2 linked regions of the Homo sapiens genome follow. The protein of the gene in region 1 interacts with the protein of each later gene in a pairwise test. Each region holds a gene or a part of one and is shown on either strand. Other genes may lie near its edges.

Region 1 (3,817 bases):
AGCGTCCTTCAGAGCTCACTGCAGGGCCCAAGTCCGCGACTCAGAGAGAGGCCCCTTTCTGCAGCCCTGGCAGGAACGGAGACAGACTCACGGCCAAGCAGACCAGGCCTGCCGCACTCCTGACAGCTTTGCCACACTGCCAGGCCCACGTCTGGCCCTGGGCCCAGCACCGTGGTCCCTGCCTGGGCTGCCACCCCTTCCCCCACAGCTCCAGTGGCCTCCTCCTGATCCATCTGCTCTCCACACAGAGGCCCAGACAGCTCATCAGGACCCTCAATCAGCTCCTGGACGCTGGGATGGAACCCAGGCTTCTCTGCCCTGCCATGCCCTTCCACTGCCCCAGCCCACCCACACAGGCCACAGAGCCCCTTGCCTGGGAGGTCCCTACCCTAGACTCTTCTCCCAACAGGCTTAGCTGCATTCCTCAAATTCCAGCCACATCTCCAAAGGTAGAGCCTGTGCGTCTGGGGGCTCACGGCTGCTCACCAGCTCCTCTTCCTGTTTGAATCATTCGCAGGGCGGTTCCCTGCTGCGGATGTCTTGTCTACCACTCATTTGTGCATCATTCATTCATTGCCTCTCCAAAACACAACAGCAGCTCCCCACATGGGGAACGTCCTCTGCTGAGCTCACCCTTGCATCCTGAGCCCCTAGAGCACTGTGTGCAGAGCACTGTGTGCCACCTATTATGGCAGCCTGGTAAGAGCTGTACGATCCCCACTGCTACGTCACAGATGAGAACAGGGGCAGAGACCAGGTGATCTGCTCCAGGCCACACGCCCAGTGCAGAGAGCTGGGGACAACTCAGGTATCTGGCTCCAGGACCAAGCCCCTAACGGCTACACAAGCTCTCCACAGCCACCATCCCCAGGGTTTGGATTTAGGTCTAATTCCCAGAAGACTCCCACAGTGTCCATTAAATGCACAGTGATGAGGGCTCAGAAAGATGCCAATCAGAAGCCACAGTGCGCTCAACTCTGACCTCTTTGAAAGACAATCACCGTGACAAGTTTCTCAGGATTCCGGCTTGCCGCCGTGCCACCGGCAGGTCCACGTGCGTGCTGCTCTTGATCTGCATGTACGGGGCGCCGTGTCACCTGCAGGTCCACACGCGTGCTGCTCTTGATCTGCACGTACGGGGCGCCGTGCCACCTGCAGGTCCACACGCGTGTGCTGCTCTTGATCTGCATGTACGGGGTGCCGTGCCACCTGCAGGTCCACGCGTGTGCTGCTCTTGATCTGCACGTACGGGGCGCCGTGTCACCTGCAGGTCCACACGCATGCTGCTCTTGATCTGTATGTACAGGGCGCCGTGCCACCTGCAGGTCCACGCGTGTGCTGCTCTTGATCTGCACATACGGGGCGCCGTGTCCACGGCTGTTCTGACTGTCTCAGCGTGTTTGGACAAGCTTCCCATCAGCACATCTGACCTGCGGACAGGTGAGTGGACAAGCTTCCCATCAGCACGTCTGGCCCGCGGACAGGTGAGTGGACAAGCTTCCCATCAGCATGTCTGGCCAGCGGACAGGTGAGGAAGGGCTCCCTGGCGGGACGCACCATCATTTGCTCAGCCAGATGCAAGGGCTGTCCCGGTTCTCACACTGACTCCACGGCCATCCTGGTTCTTGGGCGCTGCGGTGACCAAGGAGCCTGTGGGTCCACTGATGGTGGCAGTGGGTGCTCACTAAGGGAGCCGGGTGCCTCCCACTATGACAGGTGCTGTCTGGTGGGCCGCCAGGAAGTTGCTCCAATTCCCATCCCAACAATGATGCCCAAGGTACCCCACTTCCCAACCTGGGCACCACCCAGCTTCTAATGGTGCCCAGTCTGATGGGCGGGTGGTGCCATCACCCTTCTTTGGTGTGAGGGTGGGTGTTTCCTACTTTACTCAAGTCTAATAGCTGCTTTGCTGCTGACCTGTTTTCAAACTCAGTTATTCATATTTTTCTTATTAAGGTATAGGAGACCTTTATAAAATAAGAAACATAAGCCTCTGTCTTTAATATGGGCATAAACATCTGTTTTGCTTTATTACAGCCTTCTGTGTTCTGTTCTTTACCTGTGAAATATTTTGAGGGAAAGAGTTCTTTCCTCTAGGAATGATCAAGGTTAATTCTGAATAAAGCTTAATAAGAAAGCAGAGTCTATTATGTTGCAACTAATTTTATTTCTTTGATATTTTAAATATAAATTTTCCCTCGTTATTAAAATTGAAAGGGAGGTTTTCCTAAATTACAGAAAAGTATATATAGTAGAAAAAACTTAGTACAAATCTACCAGTCTACTAGTAGAAAATCATTAACACCTTGTTATATATACATATATATATTTCTAGTCTCTATTCATGTTCTTCTATGTCTAATTAAAATATCGTATATATTTTTAACAGCTATGATATATAATTCACTTACCATACAACTTACCCATTTAAAGTATACAATTCAATGGTTTCCAGCATATTCACAAAATTACACAACTATTACCACAATCCATGTTAGAATACTTTCATCATCCCAAAAAGAAACCCTGTACCCATCAGCACTTCCTCCCCATCTCCCCCAACCTCCCCACCCTCCGGCAACCAGTAATTCATCCTGTCTGTACGGACTGGCCTAGTCTGGACGTTGGTATGAATGGAATCACACAGCGTGTGGACTTTTTGTCCGGTTCTTTCAGAAGCATCGTGCTTCATCTGTGCTATAGGATGAATCAATGTTCATTCTATATTATGGCTGAATAATATTCCTTTGCTGAATATAGTATGTTTTGTATATCTACCTGTTATCTAATTGACATTTGAGTTCTTAATACTTTTTAACTATACGAATAATGCTGCTTGAACATTCAGGTACAAGTTTTTCATTGTGGTGAAACTCTCATACAATAAAATGTACCATGTTAACCATTTCTGAGTGTGTAACTCTGTGGTATCAGGTGGATTCACACTGTTGTACCCCCATCACCACCGTGTATCAGTCTGAATGTGGATGTGTGTTTTTGTTTCTTGCGGGTAAATACCGAGGAGCGAACAGCTGGGTCAAATGGGAGCTCTGTGTTAGCGTCAGGAGGAACGTGGTCTACAATTCTGACTCTGTTTCTGTTTCTTTTGTTTTTTTTTTTTGAGATAGAGTCTTGCTCTGTCGCCCAAGCTGGAGTGCAGTGTCGTGATCTCAGCTCACTGCAACCTCTGCCTCCTGGGTTCAAGTGATTCTCCTGCCTCAGCCTCCCGAGTAGCTGGGAATACAGGCACGTGCCACCATGCCTGGCTAATTTTTTGTATTTTTAGTAGAGACGGGGTTTCACCGTGTTAGCCAGGATGGTCTCGATCTCCTGACCTCGTGATCCGCCCCCCTCAGCCTCCCAAAGCGCTAGGATGACAGGCGGAAGCCGCTGCGCCCGGCTCTCAAGCCATCTTCCTGCCTCAGCCTCCCAAAGCGCTGGGATGACAGCGTGAGCCGCTGCACCCGGCCCGATTCTGTTTCTTAAGTTTAACAGCATTACAGAGTATTTTTCCAAGTCATCAACTCTTTGTAAACATGAAGTGTCATGACTGAATTAGAACAATTTCGGTGGGATCAATACCTGTACTGCATTAATTTTTTGAATTGGAAAAAAGGGAAAAAAAAGCTTTAAAAGTGTTCTGATTAAGACAATGTCTTATGCCAGCATGTTAGACCTGCGTGTAACTGGAAAGAACGTGGCAGTGAGATCAACGTGGTGTTTGAGTTTTACAAATGCCCTGCAGTCTCTGCCAGGGCTCTGCTTGTTTCGTATGGAGAGTCCGCCCTCCGTTGAGAATAACTGGTTGTGCGTGGAA
Region 2 (3,817 bases), on another chromosome or scaffold:
GAGCACCAGCCAGTTCCTTTAAACCCACCCTGAGACTCCTCATGCCCTGGCTGCTCCAGGCACAAGGACAGATACATCATTGTCACTGGGCCACAAAAGACACATGTGGCTCTGGGGCTAAGGCCTCTGTCCACAAGAGCTGTTCTGCAGACCCAGGGTTGCCATGGCAATGCCAGGTACTTGTGACCTGAGGAGAAAAGATGGCTTGAATATTGGTTCTGTGTGGCTGCCAAGGCCTGCACCAGCTGCTGGTGGGCGTGAGTGGGGACAGGGAGGGGGAGGCCTGAAGGTGGTTTTGCTGTAGCTTGTGCCTGAGAGCCACAGTGAGGTGACTCAGAGCCCTGAGTGCTTGTCCCAGCCCTGCCACTGCCGAGCTGTGTGACCTGGGGCAAGTCATTTTGCCTCCCTTGCCTCTGTCTCCCCAGCCGTAAATGAAGGTGAATGAGCTTCCCAATTCACCCCGAATCCTGAGGCTGGCATGGTGCCTGCTGGAGAGGGAGGTCAGGAGGGGTGTGCTGCACTGCAGAGGTCGAGGGCAGGGATGAGGATAAAAATCCGATGGTGGAGGAGGAAGTGTGGTGGCCTAAGTCCCAGCCCAGGTGCTCAGAATCTGTGGTGTTGTCTTTGTGGGTTCATTTTCATAGCTGAGGAACAGAAGGAACCTGATGTGAGATGCTCATGCATTTATGTGTTCATTCATTTGGTTCATTTAAAACACATGTACTGAGCACCTGCTGTATGCTGGGCACTGTGCTAGGTTCAGGGATGCTGAGATGAAGAAGATGTGGTCCCAGCCCTCGAGGTGCTCCCAGGTGAGAGGTAGGAGATGGACCAGGGACAAGCAGGACTGCAAGAGCCACGCAGGCAGGAGGCCAGGGGTTAGGAGCCGGGCATTGGAATCAGGCCAGATCTAGGTTCAAATCCTGGCTGAGCGACCTGAGGAAATAAACACTCTGCACCTCAGTTTCCTCATCTTTAAATGTGGAGCTACTTTGCAGGGTTGATGTGAAAGTCAGCTAAGATAATTAATGGAAAATTCTGTGCATACAGTAAGTGCCCAATAAATATGGTGATTTTCAAGGACAATCGTGATTACAGGGGTCACAGCAGAGGTTCAGGAAAAGTGCTGAAGGAGATGGGGGCAGAAGGAGACACTGTGTGTCAGCACCCTGAGAAGTCCCATAGGTGTCCCTGAAACCTCTCTTTGGTCTCTGGTTTCCCGGAGGTGTGCCTCAGTTTACCATCTTTCCCCCCCTCTCCAGCGGAAGGGCTATGAAACAAGCCTGGCCTCCTGGCAGCTGCACAAGTGGGGGCCACCACTGGACTCAGGGCCCCCATCCCAGCTGTCAGCATGCGCTCCCTTCACAAAGACTCAGCCGGGCAGGGAGCTGGCATACAACAGGGTGGCTGTAGGTGGTGTCTGCTCAGCCTCCTTCCCTCCCCCACTCAAGCTTGGGTTCATGACGCTGCATGGGACACTGGCGTCATCCTGGCAGGCAGCCTCTGGGCCATCTCAACTCTACTCAGTGCAGAAAATGTTCTTTTAAGGGATGGCATGCAGCCATACCAGGCGTCTTGCTGGGCATAGCTGGATGGACGACAAAGGAGGAGAGGAGGGTTGTTTGCACAGGGGCTGGTGGGGAGATTGGCCCCTTATCCACAGCCGCTGGCATCTGGCTGTCTTGGTGACTTGGCCTAAAGGGAAGGGCCCAGACCCCAGACACTCTGGTGTGGGAAGGGTGGGGACTTCAAAGAAGCTCTGGAAAGCAAATGTATGGGAACATCACCCAGAAGAGCAGTCCAGACCCCCCAGGACTAGCTTGGCAGGTTCCAGCTAGGCCTCTCCAGGGACCAGAATCACTGGCCACCACCGGGAGCCACAGCATTGCCACAAACCCTCAAGGGATGGGGGCTCCACAGTGTTACTTGGATTTGTCTCTTTCTGCCCCAACAATCTGGCCCCCAAGCATCAGCCCTCCTGAGAGGCTTTTCCTGATGGGGAGGCCAGAGCCCAGCACAACAGGGATCCTGGCTGACTGAGCTCCCCTGGGCTGCACCCCCATGGTCACTGCAGTGTCTCTCTAGATGGCATCAGTTGAGAAGCCCTCACTGGCTGCCCCTTCCTCCCTGCTGTTTCCCGTCTCAGCCACATTCCTTCCTTCCCTCCCTCCTCCCCTGTGAGGTGCTGGGGCCTGGAGAGAAGCCCTCAGGGAGTTTAGAAGGGTCTGCTGTAGACACCAGGAAGGCTGGGGGTTGCCGTCCCCCTTCTCAAGCATCCAAGCTGAAACTGGACTGTGCGCTGTAAAGACAGAGTCTCTCTTCTCTCTCCCATCTCCTGTCTCCCTGTGTTTCACCCTCCCTCTCATTCTCTTCCGTTAAATAATACTGTGATGGATTGTAAAAGGTACTTAGCTGAATCACAGAGTTTAGAGATGGAAAAGACCAATTAGGTCATCAAGCTGATCTCTCTCCTGAGGAGCTGCAGAAAATAGGAGACAACAATAAACAATTTTATTGGGATATTAATTTAGGAGCCCGAAGGCCTTGACTTGTGTCTCTTAATATAATGCAGTGGATTTCTTCCCTTCCCCACTAATGTAATAGTGGGGCCATTTTGTTAGCCATTGGTTTGCATGATGGCTTTCGTTTCCCTCCTTTTCCCATGGAAGGTCCAGCTGGAATTTCGGAAGAGCTGGGAGCGCTGGCGGCTTGAGCACTTGCACATCCAGAGGGACAGCAGCATGAAGCCCCTCAAGTGTCCCACCAGCAGCCTGAGCAGTGGAGCCACGGCGGGCAGCAGCATGTACACAGCCACTTGCCAGGCCTCCTGCAGCTGAGACTCCAGCGCCTGCCCTCCCTGGGGTCCTTGCTGCAGGCCGGGTGGCCAATCCAGGTGGGAGAGACACTCCCAGGGACAAGGGAAGGAAGGGACACACACACACACACACACACACACACACACACACACATACATCCTGCTTTCCCTCCCCAAACCCATCAGACAGGTAAATGGGCAGTGCCTCCTGGGACCATGGACACATTTTCTCCTAGGAGAAGCAGCCTCCTAATTTGATCACAGTGGCGAGAGGAGAGGAAAAACGATCGCTGTGAAAATGAGGAGGATTGCTTCTTGTGAAACCACAGGCCCTTGGGGTTCCCCCAGACAGAGCCGCAAATCAACCCCAGACTCAAACTCAAGGTCAACGGCTTATTAGTGAAACTGGGGCTTGCAAGAGGAGGTGGTTCTGAAAGTGGCTCTTCTAACCTCAGCCAAACACAGAGCGGGAGTGACGGGAGCCTCCTCTGCTTGCATCACTTGGGGTCACCACCCTCCCCTGTCTTCTCTCAAAGGGAAGCTGTTTGTGTGTCTGGGTTGCTTATTTCCCTCATCTTGCCCCCTCATCTCACTGCCCAGTTTCTTTTTGAGGGGCTTTGTTTGGGCCACTGCCAGCAGCTGTTTCTGGAAATGGCTGTAGGTGGTGTTGAGAAAGAATGAGCATTGAGACGGTGCTCGCTTCTCCTCCAGGTATTTGAGTTGTTTTGGTGCCTGCCTCTGCCATGCCCAGAGAATCAGGGCAGGCTTGCCACCGGGGAACCCAGCCCTGGGGTATGAGCTGCCAAGTCTATTTTAAAGACGCTCAAGAATCCTCTGGGGTTCATCTAGGGACACGTTAGGAATGTCCAGACTGTGGGTGTAGATTACCTGCCACTTCCAGGAGCCCAGAGGGCCAAGAGAGACATTGCCTCCACCTCTCCTTGGAAATACTTTATCTGTGACCACACGCTGTCTCTTGAGAATTTGGATACACTCTCTAGC

Evidence for each region.
Region 2: the proteins of SLC9D1 (region 1) and GLP1R interact in a protein complementation assay, tested with the Homo sapiens proteins (one study listed by BioGRID).

What each region holds. Positions count from the first base shown.
Region 1 is NC_000013.11:113,528,954-113,532,770, reverse strand, and holds part of SLC9D1 (transmembrane and coiled-coil domain-containing protein 3 isoform 1 precursor), read right to left. Parts: exon of another isoform or gene 2,148-3,817; intron 1,431-2,147; coding exon of another isoform or gene 1,094-1,430; exon of another isoform or gene 1-1,093. UniProt on the Homo sapiens protein: Probable Na(+)/H(+) antiporter.
Region 2 is NC_000006.12:39,083,237-39,087,053, forward strand, and holds part of GLP1R (glucagon-like peptide 1 receptor precursor), read left to right. Parts: intron 1-2,669; coding exon 2,670-2,837; 3' UTR 2,838-3,817.